2 linked regions of the Homo sapiens genome follow. The protein of the gene in region 2 purifies or fractionates together with the protein of the main gene of each other region. This does not show direct contact. Each region holds a gene or a part of one and is shown on either strand. Other genes may lie near its edges.

Evidence for each region. The genes of interacting proteins can lie anywhere in the genome.
Region 1: the proteins of ARPC5L (region 2) and ARPC1A fractionate together in Homo sapiens (co-fractionation; 7 studies listed by BioGRID and IntAct, with this or other methods). This does not show direct contact.

Annotation. Positions count from the first base shown.
Region 1 is NC_000007.14:99,363,857-99,366,762, reverse strand, and holds the end of ARPC1A (actin-related protein 2/3 complex subunit 1A), read right to left. Parts: intron 873-2,906; coding exon 834-872; 3' UTR 501-833; downstream 1-500. UniProt on the Homo sapiens protein: Probably functions as a component of the Arp2/3 complex which is involved in regulation of actin polymerization and together with an activating nucleation-promoting factor (NPF) mediates the formation of branched actin networks.
Region 2 is NC_000009.12:124,872,100-124,878,244, forward strand, and holds the end of ARPC5L (actin-related protein 2/3 complex subunit 5-like protein), read left to right. Parts: exon of another isoform or gene 1-1,567; coding exon of another isoform or gene 1,568-1,587; exon of another isoform or gene 1,588-1,592; coding exon 1,593-1,665; intron 1,666-2,875; coding exon 2,876-3,052; intron 3,053-4,778; coding exon 4,779-4,841; 3' UTR 4,842-5,634; downstream 5,635-6,145. UniProt on the Homo sapiens protein: May function as component of the Arp2/3 complex which is involved in regulation of actin polymerization and together with an activating nucleation-promoting factor (NPF) mediates the formation of branched actin networks.

The sequences.
Region 1 (2,906 bases), on a different chromosome or scaffold from region 2:
ATGGCTTGGTGCCCCCTGGCAGGAATGAGTGTGTTCTCACTCTATGACCTGGTTGTTTCAAGGAGCCTGGTCCTCCCCACTCTCTCTTGCATCCTCTCCCGCCATGGGACACGCCTGCTTCCCCTTCGCCTTCTGCCATGAGTAAAACCTTCCTGAGGCTTCCCCAAAAGCAGACGCAGGCACCATGCTTCTTGTCCAACCGGCAGAACCGTGTGCCAAATAAATCTTTTTTCTTAAACAAATTACCCAGCCTCAGGTATTCCTTTATTGCAACACAAAACAGACCGACACAACCTACTTTGCAGAAGTATTGCAATGTTCAGAAACGGTTCTCTCTCACCCCTCACTAAATGGTGCTTTTTGGTTCAAGGTTGTATAGAATGGTACAATTTAAGAAACCAAGGATCTAAGATTTTGCCTAAAAAAAACTGAATCGAATGAAGAATTCGCTCATATTTTTCTACTAAAAATTGAAATACTACAAGGAAACAAAACCAAAACCACATTCAGTTCTTTTATTTAATTTTCTAGTGGACAATTTACATATCTCCCTCACCCTGTCTTTTAAGTTAGTGTGACAATTTTCCATAATAAACTACTTAAAGAGAAGCTTTGGTCAAGAATGGAATGAAATCGCAAAAAAACAAACAAAAAAATTACTGCCTTAAAAAAACCAACACTTTCACCAATTTTATATTCAAACAAAACCACACGGCATTGGCGTGATATGTGTTTTCAGTGTTTCCTTGGGGCTGGCTTCCTCGCCATCGTGCCACGGCACAGCTGCGGTCGGCCACAGTTTGTCATGCTGGATGGCGGAGGCTCACTCAGCTTCACATTATCCGGAGGCCCTGGATGGAAGACTCGAGGGTCTTGGAAAAGGTGGGAAGAGCACTGATGTCACTGAGGAGTGTCTACCCCGAGGTAGGTATGACACCACTCCCTCTTCCTCAGGGAAGGTTCTGCCTGTCCCCACCCTGAACCTGGCCCTGCCCCACCTGAAACAGGATCTCCCAGGACTCACCCCGCAGAGACACTCCAGGCCGGGGCTCCCCCTGCTGGCTCCTCCAGGCCAGGTGTGCCTTTTCCCCACTGCCACACACACAGGCTCTGGGCACACTCCTCACTCCTCTTTTTTTTTTTTTTTAAAGATAGGGTCTTGCTCTGTTGCCCCAGGCTGGAGTGCAGTGGTGTGACCACAGCTCACTGCAGCCTCCAACTCCTGGGCTCAAGTGATCCTCCTGCCTCAGCTTCTCAAGTAGCTGCAACTAAAGGCATGCGTCACTGCACCTGGTTTTTAAAAATATATATATGTATATTTTTAAATAGAGACAGGATCTCACTGTGTTGCCCAGGCTGGTCTCGAACTCCTGTGCTCAAGACAGGAAAGCAGTGAGGAGAAACGAGCCTCAGCTTCCCAAAGTGCTGGGATTACAGGAGTGGGTCAGTGCGCCTGGCTGCACCTGGCTTTTTTATAGAGATGGGGTCACGCTATGTTGCCCAAACTGGTCTCAAAACTCCTGGCCTCAAGCGATTCTCCCACCTCGGCCTCCCAAAGTGCTGGGAAGACAGGCATGAGCCACTGCGCCTGGCTACCTAGAGCTCTTTTTTCTAGCTCCATCTGTGCTTCCGGAGGACCACAGCACGGGCAGCGCCTCAGAGGCAGTGTGCGCTCTCTGAAGCCCAGGGCTGCCCTGGGTGTGCTGCACTTGCAGCCGAGGATGCTCGCCTGTGTCTTCTCAACTCACAGTCCCTCCCTCCAAAACCCATCGCAACTCAGGATGCCGCTCAGGTGCAACCTGTTCCCTGCAGTCCACGCATCCCCCTAGATTCCTCTGTGTGAAAACAGAGGCACTGGCTTCTCTTCTGAGCTCTGCCGAATCCCCTACCCAGCCCCCGTATCCACCTCTCTCTTCTACCAGACAGGCTCATTCAGATTGGATATTCTCAGTGCTCAGCATCATGCATGGCACCCAGGAGATATGTACTAAATGTTTATTAAATTAATTAGTGTCAGCTATAAATATATATCTATATAGTTAAACCTGGGCTGGTGTCCAATAGGGCCTGTTTCCAAAACAGCACTCCATTTTTCCTCAATGAATAAATGGACATCTAGAAGTAAAAATTCCAGTTCACTGAGAATGTGCCGTTCTTCTGCGGATGACTTTTAGGTTTTAAAGAGATCTCTGGCTGGGCGCAGTGGCTCACGCCTGTAATCCTGGCACTTGGGGAGGCTGAGGCGGGTGGATCACCTGAGGTTGGGAGTTCGAGACCAGCATGTCCAACGTGGAGAAACCCCATCTCTACTAAAAACACAAAATTAGCTGGGCGTGGTGGCACATGTCTGTAATCCCAGCTACTTGGGAGGCTGAGGCAGGAGAATCGCTTGAACCCCAGAGGCGGAGGTTGTGGTGAGCCGAGATTCTGCCATTGCACTCCAGCCTGGGCAACAAGAGCGAAACTCTGTCTCAAAAAAAAAAAAAAAAAAAAAGAGAGAGATCTCCAAGGCTGGCATGGTGGCTCACGCCTGTAATCCCACCACTTTGGGAGGCCAAGGTGGGCAGATCACATGAGGCCAGGAGTTCAAGACCAGCTTGGCCAACATGGTGAAACCCCGTCTGTACTAAAAATACAAAACATAGCCGGGTGTTGTAGTGTGCTCCTGTAATCCCAACTACTTGGGAGACTGAGGCAGGAGAATCGCTCCAACCCGGGAGGCGGAGGTTGCAGTGAGCCAATATTGCACCGCTGCACTGCAGCCTGGGTGACAGAACAAGACTCCATCTCAAAAAGAAAGAAAAAAAAATGAGAGATTTCCAGTTTAATGTCTTACATTAGGACATTAAACTGTATACTAGATTTAACATTTTGTTTCAAGAAATGAGAAACATTCTTCTCATAAG
Region 2 (6,145 bases):
GCTGGACGCGTGGTGCTGAGTTAACGCCACAGCAGTAGCTTTTTGCCCCCGTGGACTAGTTTTATACCTGCCCTTCCCCATCCATCATTTGAATGATGTCATTTGTTAGTTGTGCCAGGTTTACATGAAGAGCAAGTGAGCCTATGTTTTCTGTTCAGCCTATGGGATCCTGCTTATTGCTTTGGGGACACCACATTAGAAAAGAGTTACAAGGGCTGGGCGCGGTGGCTCACACCTGTAATCCCAGCACTTTGGGGAGGCCGAGGCGGACAGATCACGAGGTCAGGAGATCGAGACCATCCTGGCTAACACAGTGAAACCCCGCCTCTACTAAAAATACAAAAAAAATTAGCTGGGCGTGCTGGCGGGCGCCTGTCGTCCCAGCTACTCAGGAGGCTGAGGCAGGAGAATGGCATGAACCTGGGAGGCGGAGCTTGCAGTGAGGCAATATTGCGCCACTGCACTCCAGCCTGGGCGACAGAGCGAGACTCCGTCTCAAAAAAAAAAAGGAGTTACAAAGTAGAGGTTATCAGTGGCTGATATCAGGCTGGCCTTGTTTGGATGGGGAAAAGGAACTCCAGAACTGAAAGACAGAGGGACTGGACTGCCTCTTGAGTGTGGAAGGTGGATCAGAGCCAAGCAGGGAGCTGGGGAACCAGCGCTGGGAGTGGCTTGCCTGGTGGCGCAGACCCAGCTCACTCAAGATGGATCTCATACTGGGGAAGCCAGGAGATTCAGCTCTGCTCCGAAGGCCCTTCCTGTCTGCACGTGGGTATCACTGCATGAAGAGGAGTAGAGACCCGATTGGGCAGAAGCCATTCCTTGTTCTATTTTTGAAGCTTTTTGGCTGAAGCCAGTGTTTCATACGAGGAAATGAAAGTTGGCTGATGTAATTCAGTTTAAAATAGGTGTCACCTTTGGGGACCTAACCCAGATTGTAATTTTCTTTTGCATGCTGGGTATTCAGAACTCAGCAAAGAATGTGTTGTCAGGATTGCAACTGAGGTTGGGGGGTAAGGGTGGAGACTGGCTCATTGTTGGCAAAAGCTTCTGTTAGATTGATAAACTCTTTCCAGGTAACAGTTGGGACCTCATTGATCCCGATAGATCTTAGAAGTTCTAGCACATCTTAATTTCCTTAATAGTTTAATTGATGAAGAGCATTGATGAAGAGTTAGGAGGTCTCCCTTTGTACCTACATTTTCCGCTTTTTTAGAATGAGAAGATGAGAACGACCTCCAGTTCACATGTACGGGTGCTGTGAGGATCCAGTAGGGGAGATACAGTGCTCAGCACCAAGCAGGTGCAAGTGAGCACAATCCAATTTTACATCAAGTTACCCCTCCAGGACAGTTGCTTTGACGTGGAAGGTAGAGAGGGAGTTGAAAGGAGGGTTTGCATGGTTGGCAGAGGTGCCCTGCAGCCTCCCTGTGCAGGCTGTAAACCGTCTCTGCCCCCCTGGAAGCCGTGGAAGGTGGGTGGTATGGATGAGATCCCATCTGACTCTGTTCCTGAGCTGTTTCTGAAGTGAGCTTGTTCATGACGGCATGGATGTGCTTGAGCCTAGCTATCCTTAACTGGTGGTGATGCACAGGGGACATGCTTCGGGCATTCCATGCAGCCTTGCGGAACTCTCCCGTCAACACCAAGAATCAAGCTGTGAAGGTAAAGGGGTGGCGCTGCGGCTCTGCTGGGTGCTGTTGGGACCAGGGCTGTGGGTGTCTGCCCAGTGCGAGTGTGAGCTTTCATCCACATCAGAGGGAGTGAGTTGGCACTGGGCGGGGCTTCCAGGGAAGCCTCCTGGCGCTCCCTAGGTGGTGAGGCTTCTCTGACATCAACGCTGTCAGCGTTTATATACGAGAACCTCCCCACAGAAGCCTTCACTCCTGCTCACGGCCTCGTAGGCTGAGAAGTCAGCCTGGCCCTGGCTGATGAGGAAAATGGATGAATTCGCTCACCTGTGGTGCTTATGCTCCCACAGACTGTTAAATAGGCTTTGTCTGCCTGAGGATTTTAAGTACCCGTACGCTTTCCTACCTTCTAAAAACTAAATTGTGCTTACTGCATCACCAAGTCTAAAATTTGGTTCAGAGAAAGGGGTCTCCCTGCAGCTGGGATTCTGGCAGCTGTGACAGCATCTTGATGTCACCAGTGGCTGCACCTTCACAGAGTTCTGGGGAATGGCCCCACCCTTCTGGGTGTGAACACAAGAGGGACGCTGCAGCCGAGTCAACCTGGTTTTATTTTTATTTTTTAATAGTCCACCACCATTGTGGAGTATAATAAGGCCTTATTGGTGTCATCTAAAATAGTGATGGGCTGGGTGCCATGGTTTATGCCTGTAATCCCAGCACTTTGGGAGGCAGGAGGATCGCTTGAGCTCAGGAGTTTGAGACCAGCCTGGGCAACATAGCGAGACTTTGTCTGTATTAAAAAATAAAAAAAATAATTAGCTGGGCATGGTGGCATGTGCCTGTAGCCCTAACTGAGGTGGGAGGATTGCTTGAGCCTGGGAGAGGCTGCAGTGAGCTGAGATTGCACCACTGCACTCTAGCTCAGGCAACAGAGCGAGACCCTGCCCCTCCCTCCCTCTCTCCCTCTTTTCTCTTCTCTCTCTCTCTCTCTCTCAGAGTTGATACTTGTCCTAGTAAACTACTTACTCCCCCAAAATAAGTAGGGTAACTTGTTGGCATAAATAAAAGATACTTTGAAATTTAAATCCACAAAAGACGTTCTAACCCACTTATTTTAACCATCCTGGACGAATTAGAAACTGGGCAGTGTTTCTGGTGATCTGTGTCCTTGCTTTGGTGTGGGGCATGGCATGGCGGTGCCTTCGCAGCTCTGGGACTCACTTGCTCTTTTTCGTCTGCAGGAGCGAGCCCAGGGCGTGGTGCTGAAAGTGCTCACAAACTTCAAGAGCAGTGAGATTGAGCAGGCTGTGCAGTCACTGGACAGAAACGGCGTTGACTTGTTAATGAAGTACATTTATAAAGGCTTTGAGAAGCCCACAGAAAATAGCAGCGCAGTGTTACTCCAGTGGCACGAAAAGGTATGTGAACGCTGCCACGCGCCCCAGTGAGCCACCTGGCTTGCCTTGGGGTTCGATCAGCAGGCCAGATTTTCCAGAACAAACGTAGGACGGTCTGATAGGCGTGTGGGGTCAGAGGACGAGCCCCAACCTGGGACATGTCATCACTTCCCTCTCCCAAGGAAGCTCCTGGTAGGGACCTGCTGTCTGTGGTAATTGCAGTTACTTTTTTGCTTTTTAGCTGCCGATTTATGTCAGGCAAGACAGGGTGCCCTTGGTACAGGACATGTGGGCAGATAACATGGCATAGTAAGGTGGTCAGGGAGTCTAGGTAGGAAGGGGGCCTGCTGGTTGGTTGGGGCTTCATGATACTTGCAGTGGTGGAGGCAGCTGTTGGGGGTTCTTAGAAATAGAGTCCTCCAGCCAGCTCTAAGGGCTTCCTGCCCTGGCCTCAGCCTTAGCAGGCCAGAGTGAGCAGTGGGCAGAAACCTTGACCTCACTTAATATGGCCTTCGTCCAGGTGAAGCAGAAAGAGCTGTGTCTGCCCTTCGCTTGGGTCCGTGTGAGAGCAAGGCCTTTGGCAAGCCTGTGTCGTGCCTGTACCACTGGGGCTGCCTCCCACACCCTCCCCTGCACACCCCTAGTGCCGCAGTAAGCACGCCCACCATTAAAGCAGACCAGGAGTTACTAACCTGCCTGCCTTCCTCAGAGGCTCAGTGTTGAGTTGGAAGAGAGGGGTTTTACAGTGGGCCAGTCCTTAAGGTGGTGTGGGTGCTGGGCTGTGGTTGTGGCCTTAGGTCTGCTGGCGGGTGTGCTGCACCTCCTTGGCCTCCCCTCTCCTGGGCTCAAGGAAGTAAACAAGTCCTCTGTATGATGGGGAGGCCAGGACCTCTCGTCCCTTTAAGGCAGCTTGGTGCCTGCCAGTCACCTCAGCGGGCGGCAGTCAGTGGGCTTGTGTGCATCTGTAAACTCAGCACTTTGGGAGGCTGAGGCAGGAGGATTGCTGGAGCCCAGGAGTTCAAGAACAGCCCAGGCAATGTAGTGAGAACCCATCTCTACAAAAAAATAAACTAGGCTGGGTGCGGTGGGCTCACGCCTGTAATCCCAGCATTTTGGGAGACGGAGGCAGGCGGATGACCTGAGGTCAGGAGCTCAAGACCAGCCTGGGCAACATGGTGAAACCCCGTCTCTACTAAAAATACAAAAATTAGCCGGGGGTGGTGGCGGGCGCCTGTAATCCCAGCTGCTCGGGAGGCTGAGGCAGGAGAAGCGCTTGAACTGGGGAGGCAGGGTTGCAGTGAGCCGAGATCGTGCCATTGCACTCCAGCCTGGGTGACAAGAGCGAAACTCCGTCTCAAAAAAAATAAATTAGCCGGGCCTGGTGGTGCACACCTGTGGTCCCAGCTACTCAGGAGGATGGCTTCAACCCAGGACATCAAGGCTGTGCAGTGAGCTGTGATCTGGGCAACAGAGTGAGACCCCATCTCAAAAGGGAAGCTCGAGGGCTCTGCTTTGTGTGCTGGTGACAGTGTTCTCAAGCCAGTTCTGCCCAAGAGCCAACAGCTCTCGGGACCCCACGGCTCCAGGACAGGGCTCCTTCCCTAGAATGTGCTCTATCTCAGGAATCCTCTTTCGAGGATCTGTGACGGGATCTAGGTCAGGGAATGTCCCCCCTGTCTCTGGCAAGCCAGGCTCCCCTTGGCCAGCCAGGTCTCATCTGACACGTTTTCTTTTCCTGCCCCCACAGGCCTTAGCAGTAGGAGGACTAGGCTCCATTATAAGAGTTCTTACAGCAAGAAAGACTGTTTAAAAAAAATAAAAAGACTCATGTTACCTTGAGAAGAATTCTGGATGCCCAGGCTGGTGAAGAAGGGATTGACAATGGACCATCTTCCTAGGAACTCCCAAGTAAACTATTTCAGGACATGTATCTGCTGAAATGTATTTTATTTTCAAGGTGGAGGGGAAAATCGTCTGTTTCCTAAATCCTGTTTAGGATCTGATAGTCTATGCCTTTGTCTCCGAGTACTGCAGAACTGACATTTTGACGGTCTACCAGCGTGGCGGCTGGTGTTGGTCAGATGCACCTGTGTGCACTGGGGGAGGGATGGTTTGGGCAGGTGCAGATCCAAGGGCTGTGGTAAACGGGAGAGCTTGTGTTTTTGAAGTGGAAAAAAACCCAAGAGTTTGTACAGACATCCTGTCTTCCCAGAGAAGGTGGACACTCTTGGGCTCATTGTAAAGTGCCTGCTGCATCAATAAAGCTCTTGGCTTATTAGTCTATACATTGCGGTGTGTTTCGTGTATGTAAAAAAAAATGGTAATGAATGGGATGGTAATGAATGAGAGTTCAGTTGTTGTTCCGGAAACCCGATGTGGAAGGAGTAGACCTGTGTCCCTGTTGAGCCACCCCTGGGAGCGAGCATGGCAATCCACAGGCCCTCTGCCACAGGACGCCAGCCTCGGCCTCAGAGCTGCCGGCTGCTGCAGAGAGGTGTTTGCTGAATAAACTATTTATTGTTTCTTATTCCTTTGATTTGTATGTAATTAATTTTGGAGCTTATTTAATTAATTTAATAAAGTGCCAAACATTTAATAATTGATCTAGGCTTTAAAAGTCTTCAGTTTGTGGGATTGCACTTGGAATCTTTTGAGGGTGGGGCCTCAGATGTGCCTGGTCACGTCTCCTGATGCTGGGTTGGCTGTGCTGCAGAATCACTGCTGCATGGACAAGCTTTCTTTAAAGAACTAAACGTCAGAAATGGGGAGCAATCAATCAGCAAATAGATGGTATAATTTGGTTCCCCATAACCAATAACAGAGCTTCTCTGAAGGGCAAAAATGCTTTTCTTTCCTTTTCAGCACATGTGACTGCAGCTTGCATTCTGTTAAAGGTTAGGGCCCCATTCACACTCCAGAAGCTCCTCTGGGTCATACAGCCTTTGGATACAGACTTTGACCAAAGTGACACAGTCCTCCCCTCCACAGCTCTCCCCTCCTCAGTCCCTCTTCAGAACCACTGCAATTCTTGGGGGGGGTAGAATGGGGCTGTTGGCTTCATTAAATTACGTATATTTATTCACCCAAATCCAGTCTGGGAAGGTTCTTTCTGAA